Linked DNA regions of Homo sapiens: regions 2, 3 and 4 are each linked to region 1. Evidence: fine-mapped expression QTL. A gene starts in region 1. Each other region holds a variant in brackets. All regions are shown on one strand. Distances are between the middles of the regions.

What was found.
Region 2: its variant is fine-mapped to the expression of NCALD in whole blood (TOPMed, PIP above 0.99).
Region 3: its variant is fine-mapped to the expression of NCALD in whole blood (INTERVAL, PIP 0.95).
Region 4: its variant is fine-mapped to the expression of NCALD in whole blood (TOPMed, PIP above 0.99).

Annotation. Positions count from the first base shown.
Region 1 is chr8:101,788,780-101,793,933 of GRCh38, forward strand. It overlaps NCALD (neurocalcin delta), which reads right to left and starts at 2,190. Exons shown (of 4, transcript NM_032041.3): 1 at 2,083-2,190.
Region 2 is chr8:102,120,235-102,125,388 of GRCh38, forward strand. It overlaps a transcript of NCALD not described here. Among named protein-coding and RNA genes, the nearest start is that of MIR5680, 2.6 kb to the right of the region's middle. RefSeq lists silencers at 3,483-3,672, 4,043-4,102. The variant C/T (reference allele first, on the strand shown) is at 3,106.
Region 3 is chr8:102,141,102-102,146,255 of GRCh38, forward strand. No RefSeq gene overlaps it. Among named protein-coding and RNA genes, the nearest start is that of MIR5680, 18 kb to the left of the region's middle. The variant TTTTG/T (reference allele first, on the strand shown) is at 2,594.
Region 4 is chr8:101,982,295-101,987,448 of GRCh38, forward strand. It overlaps LOC104054148 (a long non-coding RNA gene), which reads left to right and starts at 2,138. Exons shown (of 5, transcript NR_126152.1): 1 at 2,138-3,082; 2 at 4,907-5,154. It also overlaps a transcript of NCALD not described here. RefSeq lists an enhancer at 2,273-2,462. The variant C/T (reference allele first, on the strand shown) is at 2,458.

The sequences.
Region 1 (5,154 bases):
TCGTTCCTTGCCAGCATCTTTTGAAGCTGCAACAAACATGACCTTGAAATCAACATAGTCTCAATGCTGTAAAATGATTCTGATGACAGTCTTTTTTTCTCTTATTTTCCCATAGGAAAAGACCTGTAGATTCTAGAGCATCTCTGCTTTCACAGCATAGGTTGTTTTCTTTTAGTGATAAACTTCATCATTGAGATTTTGCCATCAACGCTGAATTATTCTCTTGTATTTCATACCGCTGAAATATAGTCTATTTTGAAAGAGCATTGAATACAATTATTATAAGACTTTAATTTAAAATGTCATAGAGACAGCACCAAGAAAATCTCTGCTACCTGGAAAAACTATAATGATAATTCCACATTTTGAGTAAAAGAAGTAAATGTCAAAGTGTACCTCATCAAAGATAGTGCTGTTAAATGACGGTGCTACTGGTCTTATCTGTGCTCAACTGAAATGTTACATATAAATTATCATTTTTCTAGGGGTGTTAAGAATATGGCCTCTGGGTTATTATAATTTTGAGATCAATTAAGTGATGAGATTATGTCTCAGTAGATGTGCCTGGAATGAAAGCACATTAGACTTTTGGAAAATCCTCCACGGAGACCCTGACCAAAAACAGACATGTCAAATGCCAGCAAGTTAAATGAATATTCACTCATTGAAAGCTACTGAGAAATTATTGATATACCCACAGTTATTCACTTATTACTGTAGCTAAATACTGTTCAAAATTTTTCACCTCCAAGAGTAAAATAAATGCTATTAGAATTCTGAAACTAATAAAGAACATAAAAATTAAAACAATATATTCTTGCACTAAATTACGATATAATTCACACACTGTGAATATATGGTATTCATATATACAGTTAAACCAGTTTCTTCTACTAATTAAAATACTAGCTGTATTACATGTAGTGCTCTAAAATTTGCCCCTTTTTCTGTTAAACTTGTAAGATTTAGACACCTGGTTATAAATCTAGACTTTGGCTAACTTCAGTACTACAGGTATTCTTTAAATTAGAAGCTCCAAAACAATTCAACCTGTATGTCATGAAAGAAAATCTGAAATTACTAAACTTGGGAAGGAAAGGAACTACAATACAAAGAAAACAATTTGTAGTAAATAGTATTATAGGAATAAAGAGATAAAAATTCTTATTAATCACAGTTATCAAATTATTCATTTAAGATCCAGAGCAAATTGTGAGTGACTACTTCTATCTGTGTTTGAGTTAAAGTAGAACTTGTGTCAATGATACTTTTCATTTTAGGGCTATTGTTTTTTTCTTTAGGTAATTATGACGATTTTTAAAAATAACAACAGCTTACATGACTCCTTAGTAAAGACCACCTCATGCCATTCTCTTCACAGCTGAATTTTCAGGGGAGGATACTGGAAATATGCACTTTGCTCTAACAACCAAAAAGCAATTGCATGCACACATGTAAAAGGTTCCACCCCAACTTCCTTGGCATATTCCCGATTATTTCTCTCTAAACAGGAAACTGTTGACAATTTTTCCTGGTACTTTCAGAATACCAAAGGTTTTACTTACAAGCAAAATCCCAACTTTTGTTTCAGTTATAATGTTATTTCCCGTGGTTCCTATTGTTGCTAAATATGAATGCTGCAAACAAGATAGAAACCAAATTCCAAACTATTTTAGGCTGATTCAGAATTGAGTAGCAATTGTAAAAAGAAAAGTTAGAAACACATTGCAAGGCTATGCTGGAGTTTTTAAACCCAAAACAATACTGAAGGGAGGATTCCTGGAATTCAAGAGAGAATATTTGGCTCAAGCTGCAAAATCCGTATGTCTAAATAATGTTATGTTAGCAAGTGTTGAGCAAGCAAGACGATTATATTTTAACCTACTTCACAAAACATTAATCCAAATTTAACCAAATTCCAGAGAACCTGCCTGAAATTCACAACTAGAAGCTGCTTCACATTTTCCCCTTGGTACAACAATAATTGCTCATGAATACAAACTTGTAGGAGGTAAGAGAGAGGGGAAAACCACAATGAGCTATAAAAACATCTAACTATTGTATATAAAGCAAACTAATTACCTCACTCAGAAGAAGTGCAAGATTTAACAGTCCATGCTCTGCAGCCCCTGGAAACAGCAGTAGCAGCAGCAGCAAGGTCCAGCATCCACCAGATTCTCACAAGCCTTTGACTGTGTGGACTCAGCCACAGACTCTGCCTCTAGCTGACGTCAAAGTCCCTGTCACATGGCCAGATGAAAGCCAAGAGATCATTGGTTGTCGTAGCAACCACAGACCGGCTCTGAAATTATTTCAATAGGTCATCTGTCACTGTGGTGTGTGTGTGTGAGAGAGAGAGTATGTGTGTACGCACACACCATAGAACCATCACGGACAGCTCCTTGACAACCTCAACCCCCGAAGTTGTGACTCCAGAATGCCTACAACTTTCCTCTTTAAGGCTTTGGTGTCTTTTCTCTACAGTTACTTGCAGGAAAATATATGCCACCCTGAAGTTCTCATTTGTTTCACTACCATCAGCATGAAGCATGTCTCTCTCTCTCTCTTTCTCTATAACAAAAGGAAAGAAACTGAAAAATTCTGGAGTAGTTTTCTTAGCCAATTAAACTTATTTGCAAGCAAATATATAAAAACAGAAGCTCAGGGGGAGGGGTTGGAAGAAAATGTATTTTAAAAACTATATCAGAGTCTACATGGATATACTGAGACCATGCTTGTGATGGAAAGAAAAATAAAAAACAGTGGCTTGGGTTCATGACAGTGGCTTATGACTCAGAGACAGGTAAGACAGTCTAATGATCCTGACACCAAGTAGGATGTAGACATCAGATAACATAAATTCAGGATTCCTGTACTGTAAAATGTCTAGGTAAAAATGAGGACCGAAGGAGTTTCAAAACAGTGTTACTTTAAAATAACCATGTGAGTAAGCTGAAAACTGTGCTTTGGGGCCATACGGGTGCCAAATGCTCCCCTCTTGAGTCCTCTCATCCACACCCCTTTGCTGAGACTCAACATTGAGTAAACAGGGCCAGTGTTCCACAAACACAAAGTGTAATGAAAGCCCAGAGCCATAGAATGAAAGGGTTATCTCACATGTTTTCTAACATCAGCTTTATTTCCTTTACGACGACCCTAGCTTACTTTTAACTCTGCACACGTGCCTATTTCCCAGTTAATTCTCTTTCTTAATTAATGGGAAGCCGATTAAACAAAATCAATGAAACTCACAAGAAGGTACTCTGAAAAAGACATTCAGAAAATGTATGCCCAAACAAAGGACAAGGAGTTAAAAGGCAGGGGAGAAGAGACTGCCCTCAAAACCCTAAGGACCTTTATATGCTAGGCTTATAACGACTTCTATTCTGTTTCTTAAAATAAATAAATAAATAAAAAAGAGTAGCTCTGGGGTGCTACAAAATATAAATGGAACCTAAGTCAGCCAGGCAGATTACATTTGTGTCACTGTAAAAGAATGAAATTTCTTTAGTAGAATCAGAAATTGCTTCTTTAATAATAAGACTAATGTTCAAATCACTTGGTCATAGAATCGTCCTACTCCATCCTCCTTTTCATCTTCCTTTATTTCTGTCCCAGCCCCAATTGGGAGAAAAGATAGATTTTTATTTAAAAAGTTATTTTCCTGATGCGATTAGCTGTGGCACTGCAAAACCGAAATCAAACTATAAGGAACTTTCCTCCTTTAATTTCAGATTAATGACAGCTGGGAATTTACCTGTTTGAACAAGGACAATGGAATCCAATGTCTACCTAAAGCCTCACTAGGGGCAGATTTCACCAACAGCCACAATTCATAAACTGACAATTTGTTCCAATTATTGTTCTGCTTTTATGTTCAGAAATGCACATCATACAAATGAGGGAACCGGAAGAGGCAGAGAAACATACCCTTCTAGCTTTCCCTGGACCCACGTTCTCTGAGCTGCTTAATTTACCATCTCTCTGGCTCTAATCCATAGCTGCCTAATTAATTCTTCCTCCTCTTTATGCAGCTTTAGCATTTAAGAGAGAAAAACTGCAGTGCCACATTCTGCTAATAGGTGATGTCTTCTGAAATAAGAAGTTCTCAGTTCTAAAAAAAAAAAAAAATGCCTAAAATTCAGGACTTTAAATGGATTAATTTGAAAATTAGCAAAAAACCAACACTTTTACTTTGACTGGTTTAGCATTTTTAAGACTAAGTATACTTTATACTGCCTTGGGCAGTATTAAAATATTCAGTGAACTATTAAAATATTCAGTGAACTGGCTGGGCATGGTGGCTCACGCCTGTAATACCAGCACTTTGGGAGGCTGAGGCCGGTGGATCACAAGGTCAGGAGATCAAGACCATCCTGGCTAACACGGTGAAACCCCGTCTCTATTAAAAATACAAAAAATTAGCCAGGCATGGTGGCACATGCCTGTATTCCCAGCTACTCAGGAGGCTGAGGCAGGAGGATCGCTTGAACCTGGGAGGTGGAGGTTGCAGTGAGCCAAGATCATGCCACTGCACTCCAGCCTGGGTGACAGAGTGAGACTCCGTCTCAAAAAAAAAAAAAAAAAATGCAGTGAACTGACCTTCAAAATGAAAAGTGGGTGCATGTAGCCCTTTTTTTCTACAACATGCTTCAACCAGAAACTGAAGAGAGAGATTAAGTAATTTGCCTACCTACTCATTTTCCTTTGCAAACTACCTAGGTTTAGAATTTCCTCTTAGAGTGAAGGAAGCTACCAGTCTTCTGTGAGGTTGAAGGCATGATGGTGATCTCTTTAGAGCTCAGATTCCTACCAATTTGGTTAATTAACCCAAATGTAGTTGAAAGTATCACAGGAAATACACATGAGAGCTTTCTCCAATCACAGCCCACTACACTGAAGAGAATATGTGCCATTTTATTTTCTAATTGACAAGTCATTTTTTAAGGTGAAAATGATTCACCAAATTTAAAAATATCCATTCAAAAATAGTTCTGCATCTTATTTTTCACTCTTTGTAAAAATGTCAAGGCTGCCTATTATTAGTTTGACCACTTTGCCAGAAATAACTGGTAAATGCCACTAAACAAGCAGTCTGACCTGGGCTCACACACCTGAACTAACAGGTGGTTTGGGTCATGCAATTCTAACCAG
Region 2 (5,154 bases), 330 kb after region 1:
TCTCTTGGTGAGAGTATAACAATTTTCTGCTGAAGAAACACCCCTGCTCCTATTTCTCAGCCCGTCTCTAAGGATGAAACATGTGACATGTGATGAAGCCCAAGCCTAGTAACATGTGGCACCCTGGTCACAGGAATAGACACAGGACCCAATCAATGCTGACGAGCCAGAGTAAGTCATTGTGAGCAATGCCGGGATGGAGACTTCCACTTTCTGGCTGGATTTAAAGCCCAGACTATGTAAGGTCTGGAGCTCTTCCAGCCATCCTACAACGAGATGGGGCCTCAATGAGATGGTACTAAAAATGGTGCCGACTCCATGAAAGCAAGCTGAGAAAAATAGAGAAATGAGGTCCCGCTAACAATGTTTGAGGCCTGAATCAGGCCATATCCGAAATGTCTTCCTCTGGACTGAGGAGTTATCAGAGCCAAAATAACATTCCTTTTTTGCTAAAACAGTTTGAATGTTGGGGTTCCTGACACAACAGAATTGAGTCCTAAGTAAAATATCTCCTGAAAAATTATCATAAATGTTAAATGAGGTATTCCATGTAAACCAGGGCCACATAGTACACACTCAATAAATGCCAATATCAATGTTAACTGCAGTGATTGTTCATTGTTGTGGTAGAAAGTTCCTGCCTTCTAGGGACTTTTAACTCATGTGCTCTATCCCTGATTTCTGTCTTCATTATCCGCAAATGATATTCTCTAGGATAGGAATGGTAAAGACTATTCCCTAATCCCATTCCCTAGCAGACAGACATCACTAGTTGACCACAGCACACTTTCTTGCTGAGCCCAGACCCAGCCTTGGATTCCTACTGGACCCAGATTTCCAGGCAGCCAGTCAGATGATGTGCAATATGAAACCAATATGTCTCAGCTTCATTGCAACAGTTGGCAAAATTTTCCTATAAGGAGCTAAGTAGTAAGTATTTTAGACATGGTCCCTATCACATATTCTTCTCCGTGTTTTGTTGTGTTGTGTTGTGTTTTTGTTTACAACGCTTTAAAAATATAAAGCTCATTCTTTGCTCTCGGTTGTACAAAAATCCCTTCTCTAGAGCTTTGAAGCCAGACTCTGGGGCTGCCTCAGGGAAGCAGCAGCTCTTATCTTCCCGTGCAACTTCCTGGGACCCCAGGAGTTGGAGAGCTTGGAGTGGGTGCCTGAGTCAGAAAAGTACCCTCTGAACATACTGAATAGTCCAAAAAGTAACAAAAGAGCTTTGGTGACTGCAGATTTCCTGTTATCATACCAATACCAGGCAATCTGAAATTCACATTCTGAGGGATGCTATACATAATTCAAGGAAAAGCTATAAAACCCATGTGTGTTATAAACTTCACCTCTGCCTCCAGAACCAAATTCACTGCACAACCCTTTCAAAAAATTGGACCTCCATCCCCTACAGCCACATCTGAGATGCCTGACCTTTTCATGAGAGAAGTAAGGAAAGAGAAGGGTTCAGATCGTTACATTTCTTCATTGTTAGTCTGCCCCTCACCATTAAAAGGACACACCTCGAGGGCAAGGATCCCATCAGTTTCAAGACAGTATGCCACATTTCTTTTGACCAACTCTTGATTCCTTAGTATTTCCCAAGGTTTTTTATCGTAGAGTGTTAGATATAAAGCTTGGTTTGGTCCTCCTCTCTGTCTATTATTCTCTGTGTTTGATTCTGGCTTTAGTGAAAAGGACTGGATTTTGTTTGACTGATGTTTGTTTATTCATTCAACAAACATGTACCTACAATCAGAATCCATCTCTCAAGGCACATGCAGGTGCCTTGATACATAGATACATAGATAATGTACATAGAAAGATACATAGATAATGGTGCAGAATGATGCGAGGGCTACATCCAGGGTAGCATGGCACCTCTGGGAGGGGGAGTGCCATGCAGCCTGCTGGAAGGCAGTGTCGCAGCAGCTGAGCTGCCAAGAATGCATAGGAGTTGACCAGACAAGGAAGGTTGGGGAGATGATAGATGCTGCGACTCAGTGGCTTGAGCAGAGGCTACGTGGGGGGAGGCTTGGGAGATGAGGTTAATGAAGAGAGAAGGGTGGGACCGTGAAAGTCCCTGGAGTGTGAATTCTATCCTGAAAACCACAGAAAACCTCTAAAGGAAATTAAGCAGAATGACTGGCTTAGATTTTTGTTTTTGGAATGAGTGTCCACAGTTTGGAGAATGGACTGGAGTAAGACGGTCCTGATTGGGAACAACAAGCTCAAAAGCAATTGGAACAATTCAGGCAAGAAGTGCTGAGAATATGAACTAAGTCAGTGACAGCAGGAACTGAGAGAAGAGGGCGTATAGCAACAACAACAAAAATAATAAGAGCTCACATTTATGCAGCACTTACAACAAGGCATGATGCTTAGTGCTTTCTGGGTATTAACTCATTTTATCTTCACAGTAACCCTGAGATAGCTTTGTTATCTATTATCAACCTCATGCCTCACATCAGAAAACACAGTAGAGGTTAAGTAAGGACCCCAAGATCCAGGAGCTATTGACGAATGAGCCACAGCTCAAACCCGGCTGTCTGGCTGCAGAGCCCACACTCCTAATGTCCATATTGGCAACTCTCCTAATACAGTTACAGACAGAGGGTCTACAGGACTGGACACTGAATGGTTGAGACAGGGGAGACTCCAGGACAATTTCCAGAGATCTGGCTTGGGTAGGTAAACATGTGAATTTCAGTTTCTTGAGCCTCCTCCCCAGATCTGTCCTTGCCCCGCTACCGCAAGTACCCACACTCCCACCATCACACCACACCCCCTCTCCTTTGTAGTCTGCATCAAGGCCTTTGGCCATAAAACACGGGGATCTCCCAATTGGAGTGAAAAACCTCACAAGCATTTCCACTTAGGTCTGAGAAACCCCTGACAGCAAACTCTGCTCTTGGTAATACAGTGGCTTAGGTCTGTTATTTTCAAATCAGCCAGAAGTAGGAAAACTTTGAGCGAGCTTGTGTGGTTTCCTTCTGAGAGAGTGAGACCTTGGCTGCCTACTTCTGTGTTTCACCGTAGCTGCCCTACGGAACAGAACATAGACCTTCTTGCGGGGCTAGCGTGTAAGCACAGCAGCACACCAGC[C/T]GCCTCGCCTGCGGCCTCCGACAGACCCGCAGGAAGAAACTGACCCTGGCAGGAGCTCTGCAGAGCCAAATGGCATTCTTTCTCCATGCACAAAAGTTAAAGCAAGCATCTGCAGCATTAGAAAAAAAAAAAAAAAACTTGTGTATTTCCTGCGGACAGGGAGACCTCCTGCCCCTCCCGGGCTGATACAACCCACTTTGCACATCCTGCTTCTCTGGGAGCTAAAAATAAATCGGTATGCACTGAAAAACACTCAAACACATCTCCCCAGCACACCCTTCCCAAGTCCTCGAGCGCAAGGGACACGAATCTTTCAGGTCCTGAGTCCAAAATGCAGACCACTTCCTCGTCCGTGTTCAACCAGCGCCTTTCGGCCTCTCCCTTGGCCCCCTCCCCAGACGCCCACGCCCCGCACTCGCCTCCTGTGGCCTTTCCGGGCAGACTCCGCAGGCCCGGGATCCAGCGGGTGCCCCGGCCCCCGGCCCCGGCCCCGGCCCCCGGGGCGGGATGCTCCAGAGGTCCCCGGGCCGCCAGGCTCACCAACGCCCCCTTCTGCCCAGCGCGCCCCATCCCGCCGGCCCCACGCGCCTCTGCGCGGCCCTCTGCAAAGTTGCTCTCTCCTTTTCTGCCGCCCACCCTCAAGGTCTGTAATTTTGTTTTGTTTTCCCTCAGAGGCACTGGGGGAATGACAGAGGAATTGACAGGGTGAACTGCACCCAGGAGGGAGCTGCTGGAACCAGGTTCCCAGAACCGCGCGCTCCTCGAACCCACCCCTGCGCCCGCGGCGCACCGAGCGCACGGGTCCCCCCCAGCAGCCGCCCCCGGCACACCCGCCCCGGCTGCAACTCCGACTCCGCTCTGGCTCCCGAGAAGCGGAGGGAAGGCGCTGCGACTCACCGCCTCGGCCGCTCCCAGCGTCTGTGTCGCTTCGGGCGAGGCGGCGGCAGCAGCGGCAGCGCCTTCCCTCCGCCCGCCTCCCCCTGGACAGCACCGTCGCCAGCCGCGCCCCCCTCCCCAGCCTGGCTCGCCGCCTCCCTCCTCGCGGCCGCAGACCCCCTCTCCACTGCAGCCCCGCAGGCAGCCTCTCCGGCGTGGGCTTCACCGCGGGGTTGCAGGGGGGCCAAGATGAGGCGCGGGATTTGCAGGTGCAGTGGACGCCCCCCCCCTCCCCCGCTTGCCCTGGTGCAGCCTCCGGGCGTGTCCCCACGGTGCCCCATAGTCCTAGCTCACCGCCCAGGCCTCTAGCCAGCCTGCACTGCTACTTTCCAAGGGGTGCCATCTGCTTGCCTCCTCGGGTCCTGGGAGGTCAGATTCAGCCTAGAGCACCTCCTTCCAAGCTTCGATTTGAGGGGGGGTCTGGGGTCCCTGCTCTACCGCAGTGAAGTTCAAGGGAGCCTTGGAAGGCAGTTGAAAAGCTTCTCAGGTGGTGTCCTCTGGACTCTTCATGCCCACAAGGTGGGAGGGGGGCTGCTTTTGTCTAACTAGTGCTTTCTCTACCCAAAGCCTTCTGTAAACTGTCTAGGAAAAGCTTAACAAAAAATCCGGAGGAAGACATCTAAGGGGCCCCTCTCCTGCCCCTCCTTCCTCCCCTCAAATTTTTCATCTCGTGTGGAGATAATGAGAAGCAAAATGTCTTGTCAATTCATTCACCCAATATTTATCGAGTACCTGCTGGCTGCCAGCACCTGTTTCCTGTCTTGCTGTGTCGTCCACTCATGGCCTCTCAAAAAGCCACTGTAACTAACTCCTTGTGCTTGTCAACCCTGGTGACATTTCCAGAACCCGCAGAAGGTCTCAAGAGCAACTCAAATTCATCAATTTAAAAAGTTGCTGCTTAAAAATAACAAGGCTGCAAAGGCACCGTGACCTGGCCTTCCTCGTTGTAATGTTTGCAAAATCTTTTAACATGACTGGTTATAGAAAGGACAGTTACATTGAGGTCCAGACAGCTGCCAACTCTGATTTAAACACCAAGTAAAAGTTTCATCTAATCAAAAGCACCCTTTCCTAGCTCTACCGGTTGCCTTCAATTGTAAAACAAAAATTATC
Region 3 (5,154 bases), 350 kb after region 1:
AAAAGGAACCTATTGCTTTTAAATGTCTCTTCCTTTATCTCCATTCAAGGATGATCATATCTCTACATCCTACATCTAGATTATGTTTTTTTCCTACTACATGTGTATTTAATAATATCTCTTCGTCTGATTATAGCTCATGCTTGCTAGCTAAGGATACGCTGACATACCCCACCAAAGTCACAACTTCAGTATGTGGAGGGGAGTAGAGAGGTTTTCATTAAAATGGATTGTCCACTGTCATAGCACAGTACTACTTCAGTACTACTCTTCATCTCCAAAGTATGGATGTGAAGAAGCAGACCAGTAATGTTGGCAGTGACAGTTGATCAGTTATCTTCCAACTTCCAGTGTGTCCACTGATCATTTTATCATCTTTGCAGTTCATCTTACAAGCCTTCAAAACATTCTCTAGGTATCTTGTATGTGGCACTCAGAACAAAGTGCAGTTCTCTGCAAAGATCCTTCTGACAGGCAGCTGAAGGTCCTGGGCACCAACCTTGAGGCCATCGCAGTATGCTGGAGTCTTGAGAGCTGATTGTTGAGTAGTCAGGAATTTTGTGTCCAACTTTAAAAAAATTGAAATCATACAAAATATGTTCTCTGAGCATAAAACAGAATTAAACGAGAAGTCAATCACAGAAAAATCCCTAAATATTTGGATTTTTTTTTTTTTTTTTTTGAGACAGAATCTTGCTCTGTCGCCCAGGCTGGAGTGCTGTGGCATGATCTCGGCTCACTGCAACCTCTGCCTCCTGGGTTCAAGCGATTCTCCTGTCTCAGCCTCCCCAGTAGCTGGGATTACAGGTGCACACCAGCACACCTGGCTAATTTTTGTATTTTTTTAGTAGAGACAGGGTTTTGCCATGTTGGCCAGGCTGGTCTTGAACTCCTGACCTCAGGTGATCCACCCACCTCGGGATCCACCCACCTCCCAAAGTGCTGGGATTACAGGGGTGAGCCACCACACCTGGAAATATTTGGAATTTAAGTCTCCCAATATTCAGAAATTAAACAACACATTTATAAATTACCTATTGGTTAAAGAAGTTTAAAGGGAAGTTAGAAATGTTTTGAGGGAGGGGTATTGATATCTCTGACTGTAATTGTGAATTTGTCTATTTGTCCTTGAAGTTCTCTCATGTATTTTGCTTCATGCATTTTGAAGCTCTGTTATTAGGTGCATAGACATTTAAAATGTTTATGTTCTCTAATTGACCAGTGTGTCATGATGAAATGATCCTCATTACTCCTAGTAATAGTCTTTGCTCTGAATCTACTTTGTCCAATATTAATGTAGTCACTCCAGCTTTGTTTTATTAGTAGTAGCATCATATATTTTTAATCTTTTTACTTTTAGCAAATTTGTATTATTATATTTAAATTTGGTTTATTTTAAGCAGGATACCATTGAGTTTTGCCTTTTTATCCTGTCCGACAATCTCTGCCTTTTAATTAATGCTTAGATCATTTCCATTTAATATGATTACAGATATGTGTGGGTTTAAATCTACCATTTTGTTCCTTGTTTATTATTTGTCACCTCAGTTCCTATTTTGTTGTTTTCTGCCTCTTTATTTTTTATTATTCCATTTTATTTTCTTTGTTGACTCATTAGCTACACCTTCTTTTATTTTATATGATTGCTTTTGTGATTTTAGTGATGGCTTTAGTTATTTTGTTACTGAATGCCTTTTTTAGTGATGACTCTATCATAGTAATAATATGCCCTCAATTAATAATAATATACACTCAAGTAGTAATATACCACTTCACATATTGCGTAACATTACAACAATGCAGTTATATTTCCCCTTCTCAGCCTTTGTACTGTTTTTATACATTTTACTTTTACATATGTTATAAACCACACAACCTAATGGCATTATTTTTGTTTAAAATGGTCACTTATATTTTAAGATATTTAAAAAATAAGAAAAATATATCTGATATGTACCCACATATTTTCCATTTCTGGTATTCTTCAGTCCTTTAAATAGATCCAGATTTCCATTTGGTATCATTTGCCTTCACCTGAAGTACTTCCTTTAACACTTTCTGCAGCAAGTTTGCTATTAATACATTCTTTCACAGTTTATATGTCTGAAAAAGTCTTTATTTTGCTTTCATTTTTGACATTAATTTTTGCTATGTATAAAATTCTATTGTCAAAATGGTTGACAGTTTTTCTTTTAGTACTTTAAAGATGATCCACTGTCTTCTGCTTGCATTATTTCCAACAGGAAGTCTGCTCTCATACTTGTTCTATCCATTGTGTGTCTTTTTTTTTTCTGGCTAATTTTAAGGTATTTCTTTTAATCAGTAGTTTCAAGAAACTTAAGATGTGCCATCGTGTAGTTTTCCTCAGGTTTCTTGTATGTGAGGTTTATTTAGTTTTTTCAATCTGTAAGTTTTTCATCAAATTTGAAAAACTTTTAGTCATTAGTTTTTCAATATCGTACTCAACCACACACACACACCTCTACTTTGAGGACTCAAAATACACATGTATTAGGCTACTTAAAGTTGTCCCACAGTTCACTGATGGCTCTGTTTATTTATTTATTTATTTATTTATTTATTTATTTATTTA[TTTTG/T]GTCAGTGTTTTTTCTGTGTTTTGCTTTATTTTCTATTGCTATGTCTTCAGGTTCAGTAATCTTTTCTTCTACAGTGTCTAATCTGTTTTAATCCTGTCCAATGTATCTCTCATCTCTAAAATTTCACTTTGAGTCTTCATATATTTTCTGTGTCTCTCCTTGACATGAATACTTTTCTTCTATATTCTTGAACATACTGGAATATATTTATAATGATTACTTCGATATACTTGTCTACTAATTCTATTACCTTCATCATTTCTAGGTCTGTTTGTATAGTTTAATTTTTATCCTCATTGTAAATTATGTTTTCCTTCTCCTTTGCATATGCCTGAAAATTTTTATTGGATGCCAGACATTGTGAATTTTACTATTCTGGGTTATAGGTATCTTTAAATTCCTTTAAATAGTCTGGAGTTTTAAGTAACTTGGTAACAGTTTGATCCTCTTAAGCTATGTTTGGCAGGACAAGAGAAGTATTTATTCCAGGCCTAATTTTTTCTCTACTACCAAGGCTAACACTTTTAACTACCCTGCCCAAAGCCCTGTGTATTGCAAGGTTTTTCCACCCTGGCTTGGGGCAACATGAATTATTTTCATCTCTGTGTGAACTCTAGGGATTGTTCCACCTGTTTTTCTTCTGGTGGTTCTTTCCCCAGCCTCGTTTTCTTCACATTCGTGCTGTAAGCAATACTTAGCTGAAGTCTCCAGAACTCCGGGAATCTCTTGAGCTCTCCTTCTGGGAAGCTCTCTTCCCTCAGGCATACTGCCTTAAAAATTCTAGTCGTGTTTTATCCCCTCCTCCCAAATTCTCAACTCTGTCTCTTCAAGTCAGAGAGAGCTTTGAGCTCCACTTGGGTTCCTCCTCCTTGAGCTTTGGTCTGGAGACTCTCCAGGCAGTAAGCTGGGGTAGATCATAGGTTCTTTTTGTTTGTTTATCTTCTCTGGGAGATCACTCTCCTGTGCTTTCTGTTCTGTATGTGATAACTGTCATTTTCATATACTTGTGCTTGTTTTTTAGACGATTGGGGCAAGAAGGTAAATTTAATCTCTGTTACTTGACTATGGCCAGAAGTGAGAGTCTCGTTTATTATTTCAAACTGAAAAAATACTTGCATATGGTTTTTAAAAAATTAGACAATACAAAAGGGAATATGTTAAAAAGTAGGTCTTCCTTATACCTTATGCCACTAATGCTCCCAATTCCCTAATCCCTTCCTTTTCAGATGCAGTAACACATTTCTTATAAAATGTTTCATAAATATTCTATGCATCTATTAGCATATGTATGAGAGAATACTATACACAACATTCTGTAGCCCCTACTTTCTTATGCTTAACAATATGTCTGGAGATGGTTCCATATGTGTGCACATGGTTCTCTTTATTTTTTATGGCTGCAGAGTCTTTCACTGTATGGCTATAATATGATTTATTTAACCAGTTCCTGATTGACGGATATTTAAATGAGTTTCCAGCCCTCTACTATTATAAGCAATGTTATAATGAATACTTTTGTACATAAATCTTGGGCACATATGACAATACCTTCTCTTAGTCCTTTTGGGCTACTACAACAAAATACCATGGACTGAGTAGCTTATAAACAACAGAAATTTATTTCTTACAGATCTGGAGATTAAGAGGTCTTGGATAAAACTGCCATTAAATTCAGTGTCTAGTGAGGGCCCATTTCCTGGTTCATAGATGACACTTACTTGCTGTGTCTTCACATGGTGCGGCAAGAGTTCTCTTATGAGTTCTTTCCATAAGAACATTAATTCCATTCTTGAGGGCTCCATTCTCATTACATAATCACCTCCCAAAGGCCCCACCTGCTACTACCATCACTTTGGGGATTCAGATTTTACCACATGAATTTTGAGGAGACACAAACATTCAGACCATAGCATACCTGTAAGATAAATTCATAGAATTAGAATTGCTGGATCAAAAGGACTATGCATTTTACAAATAGGATAAGCAGAGTTAAATTGTCCTCAAAAGAGACTGCACCAATTTACATTCCCATCAACAGTGTCATAAGAGAGAGGCTATTTAACTTGGATGTTGCATAAAATAGGAAACAAAAATAGTAAAGATTTGAGTAACGACAGGTTGAGCTCAGTGTTTCCACAAATCTTAGAAAGTAGGAAGGGGAAACAGAAAGAAAGGAAACAATGAATTTCAGGTTGTGCGATTTAAATCAGGTTATGTTTATGATAAAAATGTATAATAGATAATTTTCCCCTTTTAAGTGTTTTTAAAATATGCATGACTGTCAAAAGTAGAAACTATAACATTGTCTGGTAGGGTTTTCAATGTATATAGATTAATACATGTGAAAATTGTAACATAAATGGTGAAGAATAAAGGAAGCTATAAGGTTCAAAAGTCTCTATATTTTACCCAAAGTGATAAAATGTTAATTATTATTATAAAACAAAAGGTTAGAAATGTATATTGTAATTCTTAGAACAACCAGTTTTTATTTAAATGATACACAGAGATTTAGTCAAAAAGCCAATAGATAAACTTAAATGGAATACTAAAAAA
Region 4 (5,154 bases), 190 kb after region 1:
TGCTTTTAAGCAGGTGCCATGAGCTTGTCATATACCAACTCCTTTTGGATATTAGGAATTAAGGCAGACTGAATGGGAAGTAACTATAAACTATAAGTTTTACAGTTTACAAAGCACTTTATAACTATAAACTAACTATAAACTATAAAATACTATGAACCTACCTTGTATGTTGAAAGCCACTGTGCAAGAAGTTAGGCTTCTCATAAAAAAAGGGTATAGCCTTGAAAATTCCTATGATTTCTCATACATAAAAAATTCCATAGCTGGGCATGGTGGCTCATGCCTGTAATCCCAGCACTTTGAGAGGCCGAGGCTGGTGGATCAGGAGGTCAGGAGATCGAGACGATCCTGGCTAACATGGTGAAACTCCGTCTCCACCAAAAATACAAAAAAATTAGCTGGGTGTGGTGGCACACGCCTGTAGTCCCAGCTACTTGGGAGACTGAGGCAGGAGAATTGCTTGAACCCGGGAGGCAGAGGCTGTAGTGAGCCGTGATCACACCACTGCACTCCAGCCTGGGCGACAGAGCGAGACCCCATCTCAAAAAAAAAAAAAAAAATCCTTATACCATTGTCATGTAACATATGTTCTGTGACCTTGAATAAATTAGCATACACTGGAAACTGTGAAGGGTTTAGCAGACACATGCTCTTCCCTTCCATCTTGGGCAGCTTCAGCACCAAAAGGCAGCCTAAACCCACTGAGTATGCAGAGTCTAAACAATTCCATTTTTAAAGAAGAAATAAGCCACAGTGTGACTAGACCCCCAAGCGGCTACATTCTACCAGATACATATGCTTCTGAGATACAGGCTGAATGAGTCTCAGAACTGTCCTCCCTTTTGAGCACATTTATCACAGAAGTTCATCTACCTTTGGGGTTCTGTCCCTCTGCTACCAGGTAGTGAGGGCTGCTGTCACCTAATTGATGGGCATGTTTTCTCTTCTTCCCCACCCCTGGCTCATCTCAGGGGCTCTGCCGAGGGCTTATTTTCTGTTACAGAACTAAGATTTCCTTTTCTTTAGGAAAGGTTATTTCTAAATACCTTAGCCCTCCCCTGTTCCCTAACCCCAGGACTCCGTCCCTATGCCATGGCCTGAAGCAAGCCAGAAATATGAAGTTTCAAATTCTCTTTGTCCCAGAGCTAATGATATTTTGGGATGAATTTTATGCAATCTGAATTTTCACCCTTTTCTTAGTAGAGAGAAACTTATGTTAAATTCACCCATGCAACTTAGGCCTCCATGATGAGCTTGTCTTTGTGAAACAAACATTAACTAACCGAAACTGTAGGGTTGTGTGTATGTGTTGTGATGGATACTTTCCGCTGGCTCCTTCAAATCCACTCCCTACCCTTCTCCACACTGCTCTGTACCCCAGAAGGCTGAATTTTATGGAACGTAGCAATGGGCCTTCTGGCCTTTCTGGGCTTTGGTTGAGGTTTGCCAATGGAACTCCTTGGCAGGTGATCAGAAAGAAGAGGAACTGATGGGTTTACTCTTCCCACCATCTTCCTGGTGGGTGGATGTGCTCCTCTGTGAAAGGCACAGCCCCATGTCCAGTGGCACCTCCCACATCTGAGTTTGGTGCCCTACCCAGTCCCCTCCAGGCTTAGGGATTACAGTGGCTTCCCAGGGTGCTTTCGTCATCCTTTGTTAGTTTCTTTTAACCATGCTGACACTTTTGTAAATAGGTCTCTCCTGAATCACCTGCTCGAATATGCTATGTTTCCTGCCTGGACCCTGTGACATTATTTTCAGTCTAGCAATCTTCAGAAATGTCTCCACCTGAGGTTTCCACAAACCATGAGCACCTAAGGAACAGGATGTTTATAAAAATGGCTCACTCCTTATTACTTGGACAGTTCTCTGTTTCTAACTCTTTAACCTTCCTAAAGATTTTAATGCCAAAAACATCCTGTATTCAATTAAAATATTATATACCACAATTCCAGGTACTGCATCCAATGGAAAGAGCTCCTGCTTTCAAGACTAATTGTATAGACATAGACTTCTTCCAACATAGGGTTTCATTACATAGTCTTGATAAATACCAGTATAACAATATATATCATTGTGACATCAGATAGCATCACTTATAGAATAAATGGCCTGAGCTTTGAAGAATAAGGGCAAAAACCTGCTCTACAGGACAACTGACTAATAAATGTTGAAGCTCTGAAGCAAAAAGCATTTGCTTAACCCAGTTTAATTATTTCTAAATGACTCAAAAACAACTCTCAGAAACTTAGGAGGCCAATAAGCACTGAAACACGTTCTTTCCATCAGCAGAGAGGGCTTAGAGGACTCTCCAAACAACATCCTCTCTCACCCTACATTTGAAACTGAAGACAAGCCAAGAGCTACCAAATGTAACCTTAGCCACGCAGAACCCATTTGAAGCAAGCGGAGTACAGCAACATTCTCTTGATTAAGTTTCCTTTTGAGCAAGAT[C/T]AAGGGAGTGGTGAAAACCCAGCACTTGACTTTTAAGTCACAGAGAATGGTATTTAATGATTGATTCTGTGCTTCTCCAAGACAACTCTACCCAGGGGGTACCCACCATCACCTCAGTTCACATCACTGTGACTCAACTTCCCATCTCTGCTGAGAACTTAGGCACCCCACACACTTTGGGAGCTGGAATACCTCCCATGGACACCAGCCCTTTAAGTAGCCTGTGACAGAGGACACCAGAGTCAGGGACATGGATTTTAAAGAACTATGTAGCTTAAGGGCCTACCCTTATCCCTTAATCAAAGGGTGAAAATTTTCAAAGCACAACCCAAGTTACTCACATAAAGCATATTACAACCCCTGATGTTCACCTTTGGAACTCCGCCGCCATGCTGCGTGGAAGCCAACAAGCCATGGAGGGGTGCACGTGGACAGAAGACAGGGCTCCCCTCACCCCGGGTCTTCTGATGACCCACCCCCAGCCCAAGCTCCCAGCTGCCAGTCATGTGAGTGAGCCGTCTTGAAGGTGGACCCCCCAGCCTCCACTCGACCCACCCCAGCTGATGGTATGCAGAACAGACCTGAGCCCTCCCACCTGGACCAGCTCAGATTAGAGATTTGTGAGGTATGGAAGTGATTGTTGTGTTAAGCCCCTAGACTCAAGGGTGATTTGTAATGCAGCCATAGACAGCCCAAACTTTCCTGGTAATTCCAATATGAAACCTGTTAAATATGTCCTCAGCCAGTGAGAGGATGGAGAAATGAGAGATGAGGCAGATTCTATAGCTTTTATATTTTTAAAAACTGTGAAAGGCTAAATATAACAAAGAAAAGCAGTTGTGGTCTTTCACAGTTTGACATTTTACTCTGTTTTAAGGGCTAGAAAAATTAAAGGAAGAAAGAGGATGAACATTAATGTTGCTGGGACCAGAAAACCAGCGGGCATTCCAAGCCCTGTCCCTTCACGTTAGGATCCCTCAAACATTTCGTTTTTCTTCCCAAGCTGCTTATATTGGCTGGAAAGACTATTTATACTCAACATTTCTTCCCAAAAGGATCTTCAGATCAAATTTTTAAAATACGCATTTAATAACATTCAAGGAGTAAGGGTTGGAACTTGGAAGCCTTAGGGACTCTTTCCTCTCAAAACTATCTTGCACACTCCCGCCACACAAAATTCCTCAAATTGCCATTGGTATATCACTCGCTTGTTCAAAAATAAATGATCATTCCTTTTTGTTTACTGAACTCAATCCAGTTTTCTTTCTTTCTTTTTTCCTTTCCTTTTCTTTTTTCTATTTTTTTGAGACAGAGTATCACTCTGTCGCCCAGGCAGTGGCGCGATCTTGGCTCACTGCAACCTCCGCCTCCCAGGTTCAAGCGATTCTCCTGCCTCAGCCTCCTGAGTAGCTGGGATTACAGGCAGGTGCCACCATGCCTGGCTAATTTTTGTATTTTTAGTAGAGATGGGGTTTCACCATGTTGGCCAGGCTGGTCTCGAATTCCTGAGCTCAGGTAATCTGCCTGCCTCAGCCTCCCAAAGTGCTGGGATTACAGGCGTGAGCCACCGCGCCCAGCCCACAACATTCTGATATTCTTTATCCATCTTTTATGGTACTATGGCTTCGCCTTGAACTGGTTCTGAACATGCCTTGGCTATTCCCACCTATAAGCTCTGATTCACGTCAAGCCATAGACTCTTACCTGTGTCTTTTGTTCAGTCAGCCATCTTGCAAAGTCATGTTCAAACCTGATCTCAATTTTAAAAAGGAGAAAATCCCTGCCCACCGCAGCTGCCAGCAATCCCGCTCTCCATTTAAACTCGTACAGCACTCAACACTTGCAGCTGTCATCTGACTCTATGCAGCTTTGCCCATTCTCCAGCATCAAGGGCAGGGCCATCTCTCTTGCATCTTTGCACTCCTCCTCACCCAACTCCACACACACCCAGAGCCCAACTCAGTATCTTTAATAGCTTATATACTGAATTAATGCTTATTAGATTAGTTAATAGAACTAAATAATTATAGCAAATGGCTAACAAGGATTCTTCCAGGAATATTTTTGTCTCACCCAGTGCTTAATCTTAAGGAAAGAATTGCTAATTAGGTAATTTTGAGCTTGAGCCAGCCAGCTGGGGTTGATAAGAATGTGAGGGGAGCGAAGACTCTCCAGCAGGGAGGTGCTGCTGATGCCCTGCTAGATATGCTGGGGGTCCCCGGAATCACACCTGCATAGGACAGATGGGATCTTAAAGGCCACCTACACAGAGGGTTTATCTTAAATTTATTATGTATGAAGAAAGGTATAGACAGTATTTAGTGCAAACCTTCATGTCACAGATGAAGACAGTAAAACTCAGAGGATAAGTGATAAGCCCCCCAAATCAGCAGAAATGGCCTCAACCTCAGATCTCCTCACTCCTATTCCAACATTCTTTCCACTACAGAAAACGGGGCGACTATTGCCTTTTCTCAACATGCACTCCTCTTTGAAGGGCAGACTAGCAGCAGTGTTTCAAAGTGCACGTTTGATTAATGTTTTTAAAGCCAATTTTTCCTGTGAAGAGTGACCTAAATTGCCAGACATTTTCTTCTTGAACAAAATCAAAAACTTCCTACTTTTGTCCTCTGACTGAGAAAGGTGTGTCCATGTATGTAATATCCAACCATTTTTTCCGAAGGAGAAGGGATATCT